6 linked regions of the Homo sapiens genome follow. The protein of the gene in region 5 interacts with the protein of the main gene of each other region in a biochemical or structural test. Each region holds a gene or a part of one and is shown on either strand. Other genes may lie near its edges. The genes, in order: LOXL2, FBLN1, LGALS3, FBN1, ELN and MMP12.

The links.
Region 1: the proteins of ELN (region 5) and LOXL2 interact in a biophysical measurement, tested with the Homo sapiens proteins (one study listed by IntAct).
Region 2: the proteins of ELN (region 5) and FBLN1 form a complex in vitro, tested with the Homo sapiens proteins (one study listed by BioGRID).
Region 3: the proteins of ELN (region 5) and LGALS3 form a complex in vitro, tested with the Homo sapiens proteins (one study listed by BioGRID).
Region 4: the proteins of ELN (region 5) and FBN1 form a complex in vitro, tested with the Homo sapiens proteins (one study listed by BioGRID).
Region 6: of the proteins of ELN (region 5) and MMP12, one has a biochemical effect on the other in vitro, tested with the Homo sapiens proteins (one study listed by IntAct).

What each region holds. Positions count from the first base shown.
Region 1 is NC_000008.11:23,296,397-23,299,758, forward strand, and holds the end of LOXL2 (lysyl oxidase homolog 2 precursor), read right to left. Parts: intron 2,552-3,362; coding exon 2,440-2,551; intron 1,727-2,439; coding exon 1,647-1,726; 3' UTR 501-1,646; downstream 1-500. UniProt on the Homo sapiens protein: Mediates the post-translational oxidative deamination of lysine residues on target proteins leading to the formation of deaminated lysine (allysine).
Region 2 is NC_000022.11:45,544,383-45,547,882, reverse strand, and holds part of FBLN1 (fibulin-1 isoform D precursor), read right to left. Parts: intron 799-3,500; coding exon 679-798; intron 1-678. UniProt on the Homo sapiens protein: Incorporated into fibronectin-containing matrix fibers. May play a role in cell adhesion and migration along protein fibers within the extracellular matrix (ECM).
Region 3 is NC_000014.9:55,135,752-55,139,251, reverse strand, and holds part of LGALS3 (galectin-3), read right to left. Parts: intron 2,270-3,500; exon of another isoform or gene 1,883-2,269; coding exon of another isoform or gene 1,879-1,882; coding exon 1,861-1,878; exon of another isoform or gene 1,208-1,860; coding exon 884-1,207; intron 1-883. UniProt on the Homo sapiens protein: Galactose-specific lectin which binds IgE. May mediate with the alpha-3, beta-1 integrin the stimulation by CSPG4 of endothelial cells migration.
Region 4 is NC_000015.10:48,407,813-48,411,709, forward strand, and holds the end of FBN1 (fibrillin-1 isoform a preproprotein), read right to left. Parts: intron 3,568-3,897; coding exon 3,178-3,567; 3' UTR 501-3,177; downstream 1-500.
Region 5 is NC_000007.14:74,048,673-74,052,172, reverse strand, and holds part of ELN (elastin isoform a precursor), read right to left. Parts: intron 424-3,500; coding exon 334-423; intron 250-333; coding exon 190-249; intron 1-189. UniProt on the Homo sapiens protein: Major structural protein of tissues such as aorta and nuchal ligament, which must expand rapidly and recover completely.
Region 6 is NC_000011.10:102,864,983-102,868,482, forward strand, and holds part of MMP12 (macrophage metalloelastase preproprotein), read right to left. Parts: intron 3,088-3,500; coding exon 2,926-3,087; intron 2,412-2,925; coding exon 2,288-2,411; intron 1,467-2,287; coding exon 1,333-1,466; exon of another isoform or gene 954-1,332; coding exon 794-953; exon of another isoform or gene 216-793; intron 1-215. UniProt on the Homo sapiens protein: May be involved in tissue injury and remodeling. Has significant elastolytic activity. Can accept large and small amino acids at the P1' site, but has a preference for leucine.

The sequences.
Region 1 (3,362 bases), on a different chromosome or scaffold from region 5:
CTGCAGGGCCTCTGTGCACAGCCTGCCCAATTTTGGGAGCTGGGTTGCACCTGCTGTGTAGCACCTGCCCACACTCCTTTGGCAGTTCAGGTATCCAGCCTTCTGGCCTGTGCTGTGGGACAGTTCTGGGACCCCTGGGCTGGTCCTGGTCTTACCTGTCAGTCAGTGCCAGTTCCTGCAAAATAAATGTAAACAAAGGCAAGAGGTGAGATCTGAATGCGTGCCGACGCCCTCATTCAATTGTGGTTTGAGTGGAGTTGGTGCCAAGGTGGTCCTACCTACCCTCTAGTTTGCTGGGCCCTAGCATGCTGTTGACACAAGGGGAAGTCCCCTGTGTCTGGGTGAGTCGCATGGGCCAGCCACCCCCCCACTGCCACTGGGAATTGCTGGGAGCCCCTGTCCTGTGAACGGATGCCCTCTTGCTTTGATAAGCTGCCTGGTGGCTGTTGTTTAAATCTAGACTTCCCATCCAGCCCTCGCACAACTCCTATGCCTTCTGACAAGTTTCAGTAAAAACCACAGGAGTTCAAGAAAGATTATGACTCCTGTTCCGTTACTTTTTGTGATCTCCTTAGATTGCTTCTCCCAGATGGTAGGAGCTGCCCCTTTTGGAGTCTATTGAAGGAGGTGCCCTGGTGGCCACACTGGGCTGGAGGGGATCTGAGGACCCATGTCCACCGGAGAAAACCACGAATGTACCTGAAGCTCTGCTTCTGGCCACTGAACATAGGAAGCCTGCTGCTCAGGGCCCAGGTGCTGTGGGTCAAAGGAAACACAGACACGTTTCATAAATCTTTCTTTTATTCCAAGTTTCAAGTATGTGTAAGTGTCTGTGATGACACATGGTGCTCAGTGAGCGCCCTGTCACCCAGGACCCTGGTTATAGCACCGTTGAATCAAAAACCCACAGAATTGGAACAACAGGAAGATGAGTCACTTACACAGTGGGTTGGTTTTTCCTTAGATTTGTACTTCCAAGGGCCCAGATGTCCAATATTAAATGCCAATAAATTTGTGCTTCAAAAGTCTGTGAAAATATAATAATAGTATCTTGAAAAACAAGGGGTGGGGGCTGTGGATAGGGAAGCACCAAGTCTGAGCTCACCAAATCAGAAAACACGTGGCACCATTATCTATGTGACTATAATAGACTGGAGGGTTTCATTGGAAGAGAGGTCTAGATATTCAAGTTTGCTGAAAATGACCTAAGAGGAGGAGAAATGGGGTTCGGCCTGACCCTCTCTGGGGGGGCTGATGAGCCCGCATTTGTCCACGTGTCACTGGAGAAGAGCGCGGCTCCACTGTGTCTGTGGTGAGCTCGGTGGCTTGAATGGGACAAGCTGATGACAACCTGTCTGTGGGCCTCATCCCGGTCAAGACTGGCTCTTGGTGCTGCTCCAGCAGCTCTGTGGACAAACCCCACCCCCGCAAGGCCTTCTCAGGCCCCAAGGGTCAGGTAGCAGCCCCCCATGAATGATGGGAGGGTCCCTTTCCTCCTGAGCTTAGACACAGCTGTAGGGGTCTGGACAGGGTGGGGGCCGGGCTGGGTGAGGGCACGTGGCATTCGTTCAGACTCAGTTGTTGGGGGGAAGTCCCATGGAAGATGTGGTGTGGCCTGAAGACAGGAGTTGACCACGCAGGCTTCTTTACTGCGGGGACAGCTGGTTGTTTAAGAGCCCGCTGAAGTGCTCAAACTTTTTTTCCGTCTCTTCGCTGAAGGAACCACCTGAAGAGCGAGAATCGGGTAGAGAGAGTGGACAAATGAGATGCTCGGGCCTTGCCTGACCCTGAGCCAGGGGAGTGGGCCTCAGGGGCTGCTGGGGCCACCTGTGTGTGCCCTCCTCAAAAGGACAGGTGCCAGGCACTGGCCATCTCTAGGGCTGGGCACATAGCAGGTGCTCTGTCAAAGTTGAGTGAACGAGTGAATAAATATAGCGCCTTTAATTTTAACCTTTTGCCAAGAGTGAGGCCCATGACTTTTCCTGCAGAGGAAAAAGCTCTGCCTTCCCTTTTGTTCCCCAAGTCCTATCATCCAAGGAAAAAAGTGTCTTTATTGGAGACTAGAAATAACAGTAGTTTGCTAGCTTCCAGCTCTCGACAGAAAAACCTGATAGGCAGAGCCCACAGATTGCTGATGCCCACATTTTTGAGGTCACATACATAATGAGCCAGTGGCCTCAGCTCCAACCCTTAAAAAGCCTTGGGGTCTGCACTGGGCTGGCCTGGTCCTGTACCATCCTCTATCCGTGGCCGGAGCTGGCTGTAAAAACTCAGTCTCCATCCAGGCCTGTGTGTCTGTGGCTTCTGTCCTGAATGTGGAAATGTGATGCTGGCTGCATTCCCCGAGCTCTTTACCCAAATTAGGAAGCTGCCTCTGGGTCCTTGAGAAAGTAGGGCAGCTCCCGCCTGCTTCCTGGAGTGGGGGCGGCCTGGCCTTACCTATGTGGCAGTTGTACATCCAGATGCGGTGGCCGTCATAGCGGCTCCTGCATTTCATGATGTTGTTGGAGTAATCGGATTCTGCAACCTCGAAGTTGGGGTTAATAACAACCTAGGGAGAAGCAGGGCAGAGGAGGCTGCTTGTTCCCTCTGCGGCCACCTCCACCCAGGCCTGGGGCTCTGAGAGACCAGCACCTCAGGGAAGGGGAGCGTGGCAGGTGCCGGGACCCAAGACGGGGGTCTGTGGGTCTCAACAAAGTCCTTGGGGAGGGGAAGAGATGAGTCAGGGAGCAGAGGAAGCATGGCCTGGAAGAGGGAAACCCTGCCCTCTGTCCATATCCGTGTAACACACACCCCTCTACCCAGGGTGGGCCTTCGGAAGGGGGTCACCCACTCCTGGGAGTTCTGGGGAAGGCAGAAGTTGGGGTCTGGGGAGGCCCCAAAAAGAAGATGCTGAAGAGAAGCAGAAGGGTGCAGGGAGGACCTGGCGGTGTGGGAACCTGGAAGAGGGCTGCCTGGGCGTTGGAGATGGGACACTCGTCACAGGCGTGTGACTGTGGACATGTCCCTTCCTCTCTCTGTAAAGTGACAGGTGGGACTTGGGGATCCATGTCCCTGTCTGCTCTGCTGGCCGAGGGCCTGGCTCTGGGGCTGCTGGAGAAGTTGCACCCTCTCCCCATCCTTCCACCCACCCCTGTATCCGCATCCCCCCAGCTACAGCAGGAATAGGAAGGACATATTCTGGGAGAGTGTCTGTGAGGGAACAGAAAAGGGGAGGTTTACGGTGAGGACCCGAGGAGAAAAGAGAAAGGGAGGGAGAGGGAGAAGAGACAACAGTGGTGAACAGAGGGGCAGAGGACACAGATGACAGGCCTTCCCTCGAGGGTCCTGCCACATTTGGAAGGGCTGCGACCCACAGCAGG
Region 2 (3,500 bases), on a different chromosome or scaffold from region 5:
TGAGCCCCCTCCTTACCTCTCAGCCATGCACCACCACCAAGACCTGAGATATGCGGCCCAAGGTCCCAGTGCATGTTGTAATTACCGCCGTGCACATTTATTAAAGAACAAGTCAGGAGTGGTTTGCTGCCTTCCCACCCTCACGCTTAAGGATGGGAAAAGTATATTAGAATTTCAGTTGGGGGCCAGGCACGGTGGCTCATGCCTGTAATCCCAGCAATTTGGGAGGCTGAAGCAAGAGGATCACTTGAGCCACGGAGTTCGAGACCAGCCTGGGCAACACAGCAAGGCCCCGTCTCTAATTTTTTAAAAATAAAAAATTAGCCAGGCATGGTGGTATACACCTATGGTCCCAACTACTTGGGAGGCTGAGGTGGGAGGATCACTTGAGCCTGGGAAGCTGAGGCTGCAGTGAGCAGTGATTGCACCATATCACTCCAGCCTGGGCAACAGAGCAAGACCGTGTCTCAAAAAAAAAAAAAAAAAAAAAAAAAAACCTCAGTTGGAGGGAAAACAGCAAACCACCCGCTTGCCTCCAAGGGTGGACATGGAAGGTTTGTCAGGTGAAGAAATCCCAGCAGGCTCTTCCCTGTGGATTTTGAAAGTCAGAGGCCGTGCTGCTGTGTCATGGCAAGACCAGGGGGTGCTTTCCCCCTCAGCAGGCAGGGGCGTCCGCACCTTCACAGGTGACTCCATCCACATCGCTGAGCTGGTAGCCTCGCCGGCAGTAACACTGGTAGGAGCCGTAGACGTTGGCACACTCCTGGCTACAGGGGCTGCTGCTGCACTCATTGATGTCTGAAATACAAAACGAGGGTCACCGCTCAGAGCATCATACGTCCCTGCCTCCACAGTAGCCCTCAGGGTCAGTGAACAGAAAATCTCCTCTCCACCTCCCTCAGGTTAACACACTCGGAGAGACAGAGGTCCCGGGGGGTGTGGCCGAGGGAGAGGCGTCATCGCTGGTGGCTCCGGACCCTCCATCCCTGCTCCTGCCTGCTTCGACCACAACTTCTCCTGCCAGGATGGCAGCGATCGCCTCCAGCCTTGGCCCCTGGAAGTCTGCCCCGACCTGGCTGCCAGAGTCCATTCTAGTTCTCAAATGGAAATCTGATCCTGTGCTCTCCACTTCACCTCCAAGATGGCATCCTAAACAGATGACGGCACACAAGGAAGTCCTCGGCCACCCAGCCCATACGCCAGTACTCCTCATACTCCAATGCACAGAACTCACTGGGCCACTCAGCAACTCTGAACTACTGCTCAACTGTCCCCTTTACCTAAAGCAGAGGTCAGCAAATCATAGTCTATGGGCCAAATTTGTCCCAACACTTGTTTTTATAAATAAAGTTTTATTAGAACACAGCCCGGCAAGGCATGGTGGCTCATGCCTGTAATTCCAGCACTTCGGGAGGCCGAGGTGGGCGGATCACGAGGTCAGGGGTTCGAGACCAGCCTGGCCAGCATGATGAAACCCATCTCTACTAAAAATACAAGAATTAGCCAGGCATGGTGGCACGCACCTGTAGTCACAACTTCTCGGGAGGCTGAAGCAGGAGAATTGCTTGAACAAGGAGGCAGAGGTTGCAGTGAGCCAAGATCACACCACTGCACTCCAGCCTGGGCGACAGAGCGAGACTCCGTCTCAAAATAATAATAACAATAAAATAAAGAATACAGCCACATTCACTCTTTTTTTTTTTGAGACAAAGTCTTTGTCTGTCGCCCAGGCTGGAGTACAAGTAGCTCAATCTCAGCTCACTGCAATCTCCACCTCCGGGAGGCTATTGTCCACTAAATGTGGACATGAATTCAAGCAGTTCTCCTGCCTCAGCCTCCTGAGTAGCTGGGGGATTACAGGTGTGCACCACCATGCCCGGCTAATTTTTGTATTTTTAGTAGACACAGGGTTTCACGATGTTGGCCATACTGGTCTCGAACTCCTGACCTCAAGTAATCCACCTGCCTCAGCCTCCCAAAGTGCTGGGATTACAGGTGTGAGCCACTGTGCCCTGCCACACTCATTCTTTTACCATGGTCCTCTGGCCACTTCTCTGCTACCACAGCAGAGTTCAGCGGTTGCAACAGAGATTGTGGCTGGAAAAGCCTTAAATCTATACTATGTGGCTGTCACAGAACGTCCAATAGCCTTCCACCCCGTGTTTCATCTCTGTGGCCCCCACACACCAGGCCTGGCCTCCACCTGTCCAGTGTGGTCTCTCATCCCCCGCTAGAGACACTCCCCAGTGCAGGACCGAGTTCTTGCTACACACCCGGGGCAGGACCCTAACAAATGGTTAGTAAGGTCACATAGCAAGGTTGGCCAGGCTCTGGTTCTATATCCACAATATTGTCCACTAATGTGGATATGAATGCCGACTTTTCAGCAATTTATGAATGACTAGAGGAAGCACAAGCCAGGAATCCCACTACTTCTACTAAATAATAATAAAGCCAGCAGCCTCCACACCGCCAGCTCTTCATCCTGTGCTTGGCCCTGTGATAAGCTCTTCACATGCTTAATCTCGTTTCATCCTCACAACCCCCTATGGGGTTGGTCCTACTATGCCCGTTTTACAGATGAGGACACCATGGCCCAGGAAAGACTGAGTTACTTCTTCAAGGCCATGGAAATGGCAGAAGTCAGGTTTGAACACAAGCCTGAGAGACTCAACTCGTGAATCTTGTTCCTTGTCCATACACGTTCTTGTGAACTAAGCCCAGGACCCCTCACACCGTCCGTCCTCCGATTTGAGAATCATGCACACCACAGCTCACTGTGGCATATCCAACCCCTGCGACCATCTCATCAGGAAGGAAAATTCTCATGGCAAAATGTTAGGACCTGCCATGTTTGAGTCAGGCTGCAGAAGCCGTCCTGTGAGCCAGTGCACGGCACCAAACAGGGTGTCATCGGCAATGTGGACGATTGTGGAGGGCCATCCAAAGCTCTCAGTGTCTGCTCAGCTCAGAACCTAATCCGTATACAAGACACGACATCTGCCAAGCACCTAGTATGTGCCAGGCCCTGGGCTGACATGCAGTTCATGTGACCTTCCCATCAGCCCAGGAGGTTGGTGTTATCTGAGAACCACAAGACTGTTGGCAGGAACAACTCTGTCCAACCCCCACATACCAAGAGACCTGACCCAACTTCAGCGTGGCTGCCATTGGCCCAAGACCAGGTATCCAGGATGTAGACCCAGCCCCCTTGACATGCCTGTCTGAGAAAGATCAATGCTGCCAAAAGAATTTTCTCTTGGTTCCAGCCCAAACCTGACTACAGGCGCTGACCTCCATGTTCCTTAGAAGCATCTACTTTAGAAAAACTTGCAAATGTAAACGGTTTCTCTGTCCCTTTGAGATGTGCAACCAAGGAGTGTCTTTCTCAAGGGCTGGGGACATGCCTGGGGAATGTCGTCATCCGGAAGGCCAGGGTGCTTCTCCCTGTCTCTGCGGGTGGGGAAAGCCTAACTCCAACACGAAGTTAGAGGCAGGCC
Region 3 (3,500 bases), on a different chromosome or scaffold from region 5:
AATCAGTAGATTCTGGGGGTTCTTCCTCTGTAATCTCTCTTACATCTGCCTGTTCCTTTCCACAGCCTTCATGTCTCCCTCTCTCTGCAACTGACTAACCATCTCTGGTATAGGCCCTCTCAATGCCACCCACTCCCCCAAGTCTTTCTACTCTAAACTGACCTAAAAGGAGACAATGCTACCTTGTGCTGTCTTCTGCATAGTCCTGAAATGGTCTAATCCCATACTGGTACTTAGCTCTTTCCTCATATTTATTATATGTTTTATCATCCAACTAGATTATAAATCTGGAAAGGAAGGATCCTGTGGCTGAGATGTATCTGGATCCCCCATGGAGTTATGTTTTACACTTAGAATTCACTTGCTATGACATATTTTAATTTGCGTGAAAATTCAACCCTTAGATCACAAAATTATCTTTAGAAGGTTTTTCAAAACCAGATTACCCTGGTTCCTCTACATGTTTGCTCAATGACCCTGGACAAATTATATCACTTCTCTATTGCCCCATTTCCCCATGTGTGAAATGGGGTTATTAACAGTATCTTATAGCGTGGTAATGGGGTTAAATGAGATTATCCATGTAGATGCATACTATTGACATGTACTCCGTAAGTGTTAATAATAACCAAAATGTTCTCCATTACTACAATCTTGATTTATATTCATAAGCAGTTTTATCAGTGCCTTCAAAATACTCATTACCTTCTGTTTATACTAACCACACACAATAAGCTCAATATGAACACTTAATTTTTTGACTCTACCAACATACACCCATGGCTGGCCCTTGAGAAGTGGCTCTAAGCAGCAGCTTTAAAGCTCAGGGTCTCCCTGAAGCCCTCTGCATGTCAAGTACATGAAAGAAGGAATGCCATCTCACCAGTGGCCCAGCAGGGGCGCCATAGGGGCCAGTGGCAGGGTAGGCTCCGGTGGCACTTGGCTGTCCAGAAGATGGGTAGGCCCCAGGGCCGCTGGGTGGCCCTGGGTAGACTCCAGGTGCAGGTGCTCCGGGATAAGCTCCAGGTGCTCCAGGGTAGGCGCCTGGAGGTGCCTGTCCAGGATAAGCCCCTGGGGGTGCCTGCCCGGGGTAGGCCCCAGGATAGGAAGCCCCTGGGTAGCCCCCTGCCCCAGCAGGCTGGTTCCCCCATGCGCCAGGCCATCCTTGAGGGTTTGGGTTTCCAGACCCAGATAACGCATCATGGAGCTGGAAAGAAAGACATACACAATTACGGGACAGAAAGCATTCTCAAAAGCAGAATTTTCAGGAAAATAGGAATATGTGATCTAAGAAGGAGAGGAATATGGCAAAGGCATTACATGCATATCATTAAACTTTTTCCACTTATTAATAGTTTGAGTTTCTAAGACTAAAATTAGATGTTGGGATTACATATACTTTTTCACTTTATTCTTGCCTCCCAACGTCTCAGATCAGGGAGGGCTGCATTTTCATAATTAGCTCAAGTCAGGAGTTAGCGCTCCTCTACTTATAGCACATACTTTTTCATCACCGTGAGAAAAACAATCACAAACATCAGAATGCCCAGACTGTACCGCACTTCCCGCTACTCAGAGGATTTCTCAGCTCCTGCCGGCAGAGTCCACTCCCTTCCGCCCTGGGCCTTTTGGTGAAAGGGTTACTGTGAGTGAGTCCCAGGCCTCGCTCTGCCTGGCTTTCTTCCCAAATCTGCTGCTGGAAAAACAAGGCTCCAGCTTGCAAGCCCTCATTGGACAAATGAGTCCAGGGGAAGCCACGCAGTGGGAGAGTGAAAAGGGAAAGTCATGGTAAAAACAAAACCCCCAACCCTCAACCATGTGGAGCTGATCAAGGGGAAGAAACAGGCATAAAACACTTACCGAAAAATTGTCTGCCATTTTCCTGAAAGAAACAAAGATTATCATTTTATCCTAAAAGCTTTCACCAATTTCCATTAAACTGAACCTCACCACTAGTTCATTGTGCAGTTCTAATCCATCTCTAGGCATTATGCCTAAGTCAGTAGTGTGGCGCCACAAAAACATCTCTTCAAGGGGCAGGGATGCTATCCAGCTAGATTGCCAAACCCTATTTAACTCACAAGTTTAAACTTCCGTCACACTAGCCTGTGCTCTGAATCTTACCCATCTGCCCTCTGTCCCCACTAACTGCCCCATCCCCTACTCTGGGTTTTTGAAGATAAGCAGTGATTGATTACTACTGAGACAGGAAAGACAATGACCTCCAGACATAGTTGCTGCCCTGCTATTTATTCCTCTATTTGCACACACTTATGCCTGCTCCTGGCCAGGCACTGCGCAGGCTCCTATCTAGGTGTGAAGATGAATAGGCCATGATCTGCATGGTCAAAGGGGCCACAGGATCTAAAACTCAAAACAATTGAGCCCACAGAGATATAGAATAGAAGGATGGTTACCAGAGGCTGGGAAAGGTAGTGAGGGAGGGTGGGAGGGAGGTGGGGATAGTTAATGGGTGACAAAAATAGTTATAATGAATGAATAAGGCCGGGTATTTGACAGCACAGCAGGGTGACTATAGTCAATAATTTCATTGTACGTTTGAAAATAACTAAAAGTATAACTGGATTGTTTGTAACACAAATAAATGAGAAGAGGGATACCCCATTTTCCATGATGTGATTATTAGGCATTGCATACCTGTGTCAAAACATCTAACGTATGCCATAAATATATATACCTGCTATGTACCCATAAAGATTAAGAATTAAAAAAAAATAAAAGCCGAAGGGCCTACAGTGCAGCAAGGCAGATGAGATGCATCCATGGAAATGTGAAATAACAAGTCACAGATGCTATGAGTCAGAATGTGTGCTGTAGGAATTCAAACCCAGAAAGCTTACTTCTAAGAAGGAAAGGAAAGGTGCTGTTGGAGCTAAGCCTCAAAGGGGAGCTGAAGTTTGTATGTGCTTTTTTTTTTTCAAAGGTACTTGTTATTCCAAATAAAATATTTGGCAGTACAACAAACTAAGGTGAAAAAATTCAGGCAACGTGACGTGAAGGAAAAAAATATTTGGGTCTAAGATGCTACCAAAGAGGGTTTGCCTAAGGGGTGGTCTGGAGACATCAGTCCTGCTTTCTCCTGTTCCTTCCCATGTCAAGGCTCCAAAAGCACAAGATGCTTCACAGCTGTTGTAGGTGCTCCAGCAGTGAGGGGAGGAGGGCAGCTGGGCCCCTGAGGCATGGGTGAGTTCTTCCTAAGCTCAGGATCACCTGTGCCATGGCCTGAATTACCTGGACCTTGAAACAACCAGAATATCCTTCTCTTTGATTTGCCCACCTGTGATATTTACTCAATCACTTTTAGAAATGGCATCGGCCCCAAGGGATCCAATAAATGTCCACTACTTGATTCAAATGCAAGATATTGGCTGGGTGTGGTGGCTCATGCCTGTAATCCCAGCACACTGGGAGGCCAAGGTGGGCAAATCGCTTGAGCCCAAGAGTTCAAGACTAGCCTGGGCAATATGGCAAAACCCTGT
Region 4 (3,897 bases), on a different chromosome or scaffold from region 5:
ATTTGTGAGAATGTCTTTAACTGAGATCCAATCCTGTGAATAAAACCAGTCATGAATATACATGGAAATTTGCAAAGTCAAGTGTACAGCCCTTTTCTATCTCTCCAACCCTAACACTCAGAATAATATAGATCATCCTTTCCTAACTCATACGTAATGTCAGGCTCATACTGGGTTTCAAAAAAAGCATAATGAAGTAAATTGTTTTTTTTTTCTTCTCTCTTTTTTACAAAGTGTTATTTTAAATTGGCAAGGGGTAAATATCTGTCTTCAGCTATAAATGTGAAACTAATATTTCTGCCAGTAATGATCTTCTAACTTTAAAAACAATGTCCTTAAATCATTTAATAATTACATTCCTAATAATTACATTTCTAATACAGTTCTCTAAGAACTACAGTTAAAACCAGAATAAAATATATTCTGTGGACCAAGTTGATGGTAATTTTAAAATCCCTAACATTTATGGGTATATAACTTTTAAGGATACTAATGCAGCATCAACCCAATTGTCCTTTATTTTGGCTCATCTAATTTACAGACATGATTTCTGAAGTTTAACAGTATTTGTAATGGCAATATCCAAAGTGATTTTGGCTGAGTAAACTGCTATTTGTTGAACAAAAATGTAGTTGTTTGTGCAAGTTTAAACATTTCACAAGGCCAGCTGAGTTCATTTCAACCCTACTTACAAAATAATTATTGGCAAATGAAATGGGCTGAGGGGGTAGAGACAAGATATTTTCAAGCTTCTGAGAGATTTACAAAGCCAAGTTCTTCAACTATTGAAAGTGAAATTGAAAGGTCACAGACAATTGAAAGGTACAGGTTTAAATCTCAGGATTAAAAAGAGTTCCAACAAGAGGAATATTTACAATGGAACAATGAGGAAAATGTTTTGTTACAGTCAGAAACATGGAAAATATGCTGTTCAAAATTGTTGGCTCAGGAATAAATAAAATCCAGACTTGGACTATTAAAAATATCAAAGTGATCCACTGTGTGCCAACTCCATTTTCCCCTGTTGTTTGTTATAAAGAAAATCCGTTATTGAATATAATGCAGTTCTGGTTAAATTATCAAAGACATTTTCCATATGCAAACTGTTGTTTACCATATGCTATATATTCTTCGATAACAATTTTAATACACCTCTATCACATGGTTCCATAGGTGCAGCGTTAGAAGGAAATTTTGAGTTATATTTTAATCTCTTACCCAAGGTACAAACCCCCTTTGTAACAGCCATTCAGCTCATTCTGTTGAGCACCTATTATAAACAAAATTAGAGATACAAAAATACCTTTAAGATGTTAATGGCCTGTTAGGTGGAAGAAAGCATCTTTGTCCAATGGTTGCCATTAAGCCTAGACTGAAACTCTTCTATCTTGTGACAGGGAGCTCACCACAATGCAAGGAAACCCATTCTTTCAGTGAGTAGCTCTATAATTGGGACCGTGTGTATTAAACTGGGGCTGACATCAGCTGACCCTGGTTTTGCCTTCCGGAATAGTATGAGCCAAATCTACTCCATTTTTTTCAGCTGAGCTCTTCAAAGATTTTTGAGAGCACTTTCCTGTGTCCTACCTAGTTTCTCCGCCCACCACCTTCATGCCATCTTATTTCCTCTTATTTTCACTACCACGAAATGCTTTCCTGCCCTTAGGGATTTAAAAAATTATTTCATATCGACGGATTGAGCCTAACAGCTAAATACTCAATATTGCACTTAAAATAAAACAGACTTTAAAAATTATGACATTAAGAAACCAAAAGTTACAGCAATTGGATACAGTCTGGGATTATCCCTTTGTAATTAGATGAGCATTGACTAACGAAAGATGTTTAGGGGAAAAAAAAATGGAACAGAACACCTAAGGCTTGCCAAAACTGTGTATATTTGAGAGGGGGGCATGATAAATCTATTATAATGAAATTCATGTGCTCTAAGACAATGACTGAACTTGGTATTTAAGACTATTTAAAAGTCACAAGATGAATTAGGTCATGTTTCAGAAATGACTCTACAATCTAAATTTCTCACAAGCAAGTCAGGTTAATGACACCAGACTCTGCTACTTTCAATGGATAAAACAAGGGATCGACTCATATGTTAAATTTTCTTCTAGTGGTTATACATTTGGTACTTTCATAAGCCATAAGTAAGAGACCCAGGATAATTTAAATCCAGGAGACTTTATTTAGCCTCCGGAATGGCCCCTCCAACCCCAAATCCATGCAAGAACACAAAGCCAAGGGGTAAACTAAAAAAAAGAAGAGATTGTTTTATTGTGACATTTATGACATTGACCCCTTGTTGACAGGAATGACCGAGGGTAATCTTGGCATATTGCACATGCTGTGATGAAGGATGCACTGGTGATCCTCTGGCCACTGAGGCTGTTTCCTGGTCCTCCCAGACCTCTATGCACGTGTGGGCCAGTCACCGAAATTTCATTACCACTTGGTGTATACATTTAACAAGTCTTTGGTCTTAATAAGCACCATTACAAACCCTCACATTAAGGGCATTATTATTCTAGTTTATAAATGTTTCAATGATAAAAAATAGCACGATTACAGTATACACACACTTAATTTACATGTAATGTATTATACTCATAACTGAGATAAGCTACTGAACTAACTTTGGTTGATTGAAATTAATGAAGTATTGGAACTGAATACTTGTAATTTGGTTTCTAAGTTGTGTACATATTACAGTGCATTTATAAATCTAGTTTGAAAATTTACTAGCACCAAATAGGTACCATAAATGGACAACCTAGTACTTGTATTTGGAGAAGCAAAGTTTACAAATTTGCAAAAAATAGAGTAGTCCATCAATTGAAAGCACATTCCCGTACGTTTGCTGGAAGGATGGCATGTCAGCATAAATGGCCAACCCCCAATGGAAATACACGTCCCAGTTTTCAAGAATCAACACATATGACAAGGTAGCTTAGCTACACACATGAGAAGCCTGAGAAAGTGGTTGTTTTGAACTAGGGTAGTCACCTGTACCTTGCTTTGGTAATACAAAGAATAGTGCTTATTTATACAAATTTACTTGGTGAAAGATTGTACCTATGATATGATGATTCTGATTGGGGGAAAATATAGTTCTACCTATCTATATTTGTTTTTCTTTTAATTATTTGGTCTCTGGATGGTGAATTAATGAAGCAAAACCTGGATTTTCATCTTCAGATTATCACCCAGTTCACCACTGAGGTAGTCTTTGTCATATTTGTCTTCTAGTTGGTTAAGTTCTTTCTTTTTATAAAGTGGAGTACTACTGATTTGTAATGAATAGGTTCCAGCCACTGGCTTCTTCTTTGTGAAGTGGAGGTAGCTGATCCCTTCCTTTTGGTTGATTTTAAAGAAGCCATCTTCATTTCCAGATTCGATCAAGTATCTGTTGTGATTCGTCAGAGTTGTAAGAGCTGGAAGGAGTTCTAGGATTCGAACCTTGTTACTGACGTGGGAAATATTGAAAGCAAAGATGGCTGTCTTCTCAACATCCCAACTTGCAAGACTCACATTGGCTTCTGTCTCAGACTGATCCTGGAAAGACACATGGCAATATGTTAAATACAATGTACATATGCCACTTAGCTCTCATATTAAAGAAAAAATGACTCAAATTTCACACTAATACAATTTTCTGCCTTATGCTGCATACACAATATTGAAAGCATTTTGTTTAGACCACAAGTGTATTAAATTGGCACATATTTGTAATATTTGAAAATATTAACTGATGTCAGGAAGAAAGGCAGGTTGAAATCATTTGTATCTGGAGGTCTCAAAATGTAGTCCCTGAACAAGCTGCATCAGCATCACCTGGGAATCTGTTAGAAATGCAAATTCTCGGCATCACCCCAGAACTACTGA
Region 5 (3,500 bases):
AGTTAATCAGGGCAAAACAATAGAGATGGCATCTCAGGTAGAGTGATCAGAAGGGGCAAAGGTAAGGAGGCATGAACAATGCATATTTGGGAAGGAACAAAGGCCAAGTCCATCTGGCTTTGCGGCTAGGGTCTCCGAGGTCTATGCAGGGGCCCGAGCCGTGGACTTGCCACCCCGGGAGGCACTCACCATACTTGGCTGCCTTAGCGGCTGCTGCTGCAGCTGCAGCTGCAGCTGGAGTCCCAACGCCTGAAAACACAGCCACAGAGGGTGAGGTCCTTGCCCTGTGGCCATCTCAAGGACACACCCGCCCCCTGCTGGGACAGATGTTACCTGCGATGCCTCCAATTCCAGGAATTGCCCCAGGCACGCCAGGAACACCAGCCCCTCCAACACCAGGGAGGACTCCGGCTGCTCCAGCACCTGTTGAGATGGGGACAGTGCAATGTAGTTTCCCAAGGACCCTCCTGAGGACAGGCAGGATGGCCACTTAGACGCCGGCGTTTTCACCAGTGTGATCTTATCCAGGAATGGGGCCCGGGTGTCTCCAGATGGGCCTGTCTGGGGAGGCCCCCACCCCACTCCACTGTTCCTTGACTCTCCCCCAAAGTGTCCATTTCAACACACTCATTAAGGGACTTGTATGTTTTCAGACAAATCCCATTCTAATCACTGCCACATACTGAGAAACCACAAGTGGCCGCTCCCTGGGCCAGAGGGTCCCCTGCAGGAATGTTCAAGACTTCCTCTCCCTGTGTTCCGAAGATGCAGCCAAGTTTGTAATCCAAGCGCCTGGCTGCTTGGCTCTGGCAGCCCCTCACAGCCCTGCTCTCCCGCTCCCACATTGCAGCCGTCCCCACCAGCCGCTGGGGCCAAGGAGCCTCGGGTGCTGGGAGGGGGGCCTGCGGGGCCTCCACTGGGAGGCCCAGCTTCAGGCTTCTCCCCACATTCTCGCTCTCTCGGGCTGGTGGGGAGATAAGGAAAGGGCTTCCCTGGGGCTGAGGATGAAGGAGGACTTCAGCCCTAGTGGTCTGACCCTGAGGTGGGCACTACCTGGGGCAGGGGACAGATGCCCACTCCACCCACTGCACGGGCACAGGAATACCACGTTCCATCTGCAGCCATGCTAGCCAAGAACTCACTGACCTGAGCAGTGAGTTAACATTTTTATAGTACACATTAAATTGATACATAACTATTAAATATTTTAAATGCTTATATATGCACCACCTAAAATTATCTTTCTAACCACCGTGGTACCCATTCCCTCTGCTTGGCCTCCTCTTTCCTGTTTTAACCACATGGTAAGCTCCATCTTTATTTTTAAGGCCTAAATCACATGTCACTTTCTCTGGGAAGCCTTTCTAACTTTCCTCAGGTAGAAAAAAATGCCTCCCGTTTCTTGACTCCCACAACAGTGGCTATATTCTCTAAGAGAACTCTTGTTTGTCCCTGATCTCTGATATGGATGGGTGGGAGGAGGCAGTGAGGGAGGGAAGGAAGGAGGCATGGATGAATGCATGGAGGAAAGAATGAATGAATGAATGAATGAATGAATGAATGAATGCATGGGTGAATGGATGGATGGGTGCATGGATGCATGGAGGAATGGATGGATGGATGGATGCATGCATGGAGAAATGGATGGATGGGTGCATGGAGGAATGGATGGAGGGATGCACGGAAGAATGGGCAGATGGATGGATGGATGGATGGAAGAATCAATGGAGGGAGTGATGGATAGATGGATTGATGGATGGATGGATGGATGGATGGATGGACGAGTGGATGGATGGGTAAATGGATGGATGGATGAGTGGATGGATGAATGGATGGATGGATAGATGGATGCATGGAGGAATGGATGCATGGAGGAATGGATGGATGAGTGGATGGATAGAGGGAAGAATGGATGAATGAGTGGATGGATAGAGGGAAGAATGGATGGAAGGAAGAATTGATGGGTAGATGGATGGATGGATGGATAGATGGGTGAGTGGATGGATGGATGGATGGATGGATGGATGGATGGAAGGATGCATGGAGAAATGGATGGATGGGTGGATGGATGCATGGAGGAATAGATGGATGGATGGATGGATGGATGAATGGATGGAAGGATGGATGCATGCATGGAGAAATGGATGGGTGGGTGCATGGAGGAATGGATGGAGGGATGCATGGAAGAATGGGCAGATGGATGGATGGAAGAATCGATGGAGGGAGTGATGGATGGGTGGATTGATGTATGGATTGATGTATGGATGGATGGATGGATGGATTGAGTGGATGGATGGGTAAATGGATGGATGGATGAGTGGATGGATGAATGGATGGATGGATAGATGGATGCATGGAGGAATGGATGCATGGAGGAATGGATGGATGAGTGGACGGATAGAGGGAAGAATGGATGGATGAGTGGATGGATAGAGGGAAGAATGGATGGAGGGAAGAATTGATGGGTGGATGGATGGATGGAAGGATGAATGCATGGAGGAATGGATGGATGGATGAATGGATGCATGGAGGAATAGATGGTGGATGGATGGATGGAAGGATGGATGGAAGGATGGATGCATGCATGGAGAAATGGATGGATGGGTGCCTAGAGGAATGGATGGAGGGATAGATGGATGCATGGAGGAATGGTTGGATGGATGAATGGGTATATGGGGGAATAGATGGATAGATGGTGGATGGATGAATGGAGCGAGGGAGTGATGGATGGATAAATGGATGGATGGATGAGGGGATGGATGGATGGGTGCATAGATGGATGGATGCATGGAGGAATGGATGGATGCGTGGATGGATGGATGGAAGAATGGATGGAGGGAGGGATTGATGGATGGAAGAATGGATGGAGGGAGGGATTGATGGATGGATGAATGGGTGGATAAGTGGATGGATGGATGGATAGATGGCTGCATGGAGGAATGGAGGATGGATGAATGGAGGGAGGTAGTGATGGATGGGTGGATGAATGGATAGATGGATGAGTGGGTGGATGGATAAATGGATGGATGGATGTGTGGACAGATGGATGGATAGATGGATCCATGGAGAAATGGATGGATGGATGGATGGATGGATGGATGGATAGATGGATGGATGAATGGATGGAGGGAGAGATGGATGGATGAATGAGTGGATGGATGAGTGGATGGATGGATGGATGCATGGATGTGTAAATAAGTAGATGAATGGATAGATAAGTGGATGGATGGATAGATGGATGCATGGAGGAATGGATGGATGGATGGATGAATGGATGGAGGGAGAGATGGATGGATGAATGAATGGACGGATGAGTGGATGGATGCATGGATGGGCAGATGAGTACATGAATGGATGGATGGATAGATGGATGCATGGAGGAATGGGAATGGATGGAGGGAGGGATGGAGAAAGTAATAGATTGATGGAAGGATGAATGGATACATGGATGCATGGAAGAATGGTTGGAGGGAGGGATAGATAGATGGGTGATGTTGAAA
Region 6 (3,500 bases), on a different chromosome or scaffold from region 5:
CTACAGCAAACTACACCCATTTGTGAGCTCTTTGGAAAGTGTTATTTGCTAAAATCAAGTTTTGTTTCTCAAACAGAGCTAAGGGCTGGTGGACAAATTCAAGTCATAAGCATCCGGTATTCAATTGGAATTAGATATTGTGTTTTAAATGCTTAAGAATAAATAACAGTTGTAAATGTAAGCTTAACATATATGTTATGTCTCATGTCAACCAGGCAAGCAATCTAGGAAATGACTGGCTTACTCAGAAGAAGGAATACAGAATCCTCTCCTCCTTCAAAATGTAGACAATTGAGACAACAGAGACAGACACTCAAATGAGCTCCTATCCTCACTTGACCATATGACTTTCTTTTAAGGAAGATCTTGCAGGACCTCCTGACCTCCTGTCATTTAGAGGATGGTTGTCTCATTTTGTCTTTTGAATCCAGTGATTACAGAAAGGAATCTGGAAATCCATAACCCTCGAAACTGACTGTAGATTAAATACTTGGTCTTGTACATCTATGACACTATTTTCCAATGTGTTTCCACTATGATTAATAAGATGACATTTTATTTAGAGTGTTTTTTTAAAAAAAAACACACATTATCTACTATTTCATATATCAGAAACCAAAAACACAAAGAACTAAGTTGACAATAACTATTTCAGTCCTATATTCTCTTAATCTCTCTCCCTGGAAGGTCAAGGAGCTTTGGGAATTTGCGCAGAAAATGTGCCTTCTAGAAAGCCTCATTCCATATCTGTTTCACAATCTGAGGGGTCGAATGACCAACCATTAAAACTCACCTCCAATACTGGTTATCTACAAAGAAGTAGGTCCTATAAAAACGTGGGTTAAAAACAGCTGCATCAATTTTTTTCACAAAGTTAGGAAAACCAAAAGAATGTATGCTCTTGGGATAATTTGGCTCTGGTCTTAAATTGCTAATTAACCAGTATTTGTCATCTGTGAAGACAAAGAAATAGGGTAAATTTGAATTATACAGGAAGAGTAATAAGAAAATATTGATTTACTATAAACAACATAATTCCTTTCCAACAGTTATAATATTTATTGCTTATTGATCTTAAACATAGTCTCTTTTCTATGGTTCCCATGGTTTTTTTTCACAAGTATTACTATTTTGTAGTTTACAAACTTTTCCCAGAAGTTGTATATATTACTTAGGTATTTAGGCTATTTTAGTTTACACTTCAGAGCGAGCCACTATTAATAAAATCAAGAGTGCTTTCTTGGTCTATATCTATTAAAAAGTAGTAGTCTCTTCTCAATTTATTCTCTTCCTTGAAGTAAACTCAATGGCAAAACTAAAGATTAGAATTACCTTTAAAAAGAAAAACTTGATTTCTGGCTTCAATTTCATAAGCAGCTTCAATGCCAGATGGCAAGGTTGGCCATAAGGAAGAAATTAAATTAACACTGGTCTTTGGTCTCTCAGAAACCTTCAGCCAGAAGAACCTGACATGAAAGACATTTGACACATGTTAAAAGACAATGTAGACTCAAGAACCATGGCATGTGAATGGGAGGGAACTGTGAAAAGACCCAATATTTCTTTCCATTGTCTTCACATTCTGTTCCATGGATGTCTGATGTTCATGGATCCACAAGAAAAGGATATCAATCAACTCTTTGATAATAACAATGACTTTAACAAGCAATCTGGTATACAGAAATACCCTGGAGCTTGGAATCCAGGGATCTAAGCTTCTGGTTCGACCCTACAATTCACTCACCAGTTTTGTAACCTCAAGGAAGTCACTATCCTCAAGTGTATCAGTCTTATAATCTCAAAAATGGGAAATATTTGTCCTACTTGACAAATGTTAGTCTTCCCAACTGCCCCTCCTTACCACCAACATCTGCTTCAGTCTGTGTTCTAAGAAAGAAACCATAAGTTATCCTGGAATTCTCTCCTCCATAACCAGGAAATCAAGTCTCTTGCATAGGTACTGTTTTACAGTCTTGGTTTCAGACTTCACCATTTTTATCTATGATTAAAATAGTCTGGCTTCTGTTTCTTATCTTCTAAATCCCCATCCCAGATTCCTACTGCAAATCGTTTTTTACACACCAGTTTTCTAGTTAAAACACAAATGTAATTACACCTGTCTCCTGCTTCAAAACCTTTAAGATCTCCTCACTGCCTACAGAATCGAGTCCAAGTTCCTGCTTACAAGTTTCATCTACTTCATTTTCAATTATTTTCCACTGTTTTCTGACAAAAAAAATTTAAAGGCAGAAACTTTAATATTGGTTAGATATGAAAATGATCCTACCTGTCTTTGAAGAAAAAGATCTTATTTCCCACGGTAGTGACAGCATCAAAACTCAAATTGGGGTCACAGAGAGCTGGTTCTGAATTGTCAGGATTTGGCAAGCGTTGGTTCTCTTTTGGGTCTCCTGAAAATACATTTCGAGAAGCATTAGTAAACAAAATCTGCATTGTAGTTCAGAGGAGGAACAGTTATGTTTTAAATACTCAATTTTCTTAATGAACATTGCATCAAAATCATTTTAAGCTTTCTATAACATTCACAGGAAGTATAAAGTAAGGTTTTTTTTCCACATGGTTGCAATATCATGGAGGAAGAAAATCTGATTATCTTTACTTTCCTTTTCCAGTTATAATAGATTGTTTAATGTGTGGGCCTTCATCAGTAAGGCAATGGTATCTTGGATAGAAAGAACACCAGACTTGAGGCCTCTGGTTCTGCCTCTGGCTCTGACGTTAACATACTAGGTCTCTTGTCCTCATCTGTATAATGAAGATAATACCTGTGTCACCTGCCACACAGGGTTCTTATGCGGCTTAAAAAAAGACAGATATTAACGTTTTATCCAAATATAGATATTGTTAGACTATTCATAAAAGCGAGTATCTTTATATGGCAAAATGATAAAGAATTCAACTCACCATACAGGGACTGAATGCCACGTATGTCATCAGCAGAGAGGCGAAATGTGTTGATGTCAACATATTTGTAGGTGGGGAACATTACGGCCTTTGGATCACTAGAATGGCCAAGACCTAAGGAATGGCCAATCTCGTGAACAGCAGTGAGGAACAAGTTTGTGCCTAAGAAGAAACCAACCAAAAGACAGCTGTGAAATGCATTATCATCTTGGACAAGAACACAATATCTGACACAGTGAAAAAGAAAGATTTGAGAATCTTTTACTTATTTCTTTACCCTTTTGAGTTGGGTTTCTCAATCTCAGCACTTCTGACATTACAGTTCAGTAGTCTGGGCTGTTCTGTGCATTATAGTTGTTTAGAAATCTCAGGTTTTACCCCTAAATGCAAGTAGCAAATCCTTTTTAGTTTTGACAACCAAAAAATGTCTCCAGACATTGTCAGATATCTCCTTGGGGACAAAATTGCCTAGGGTTAGGGACCTCTGTACTAGTAGACAAATGAAATATATTCTGTTGTAAAAATTCCTAGAATAACTCACAGCTGCGTTCAACAGTTTTCATTGCTTCTAAATA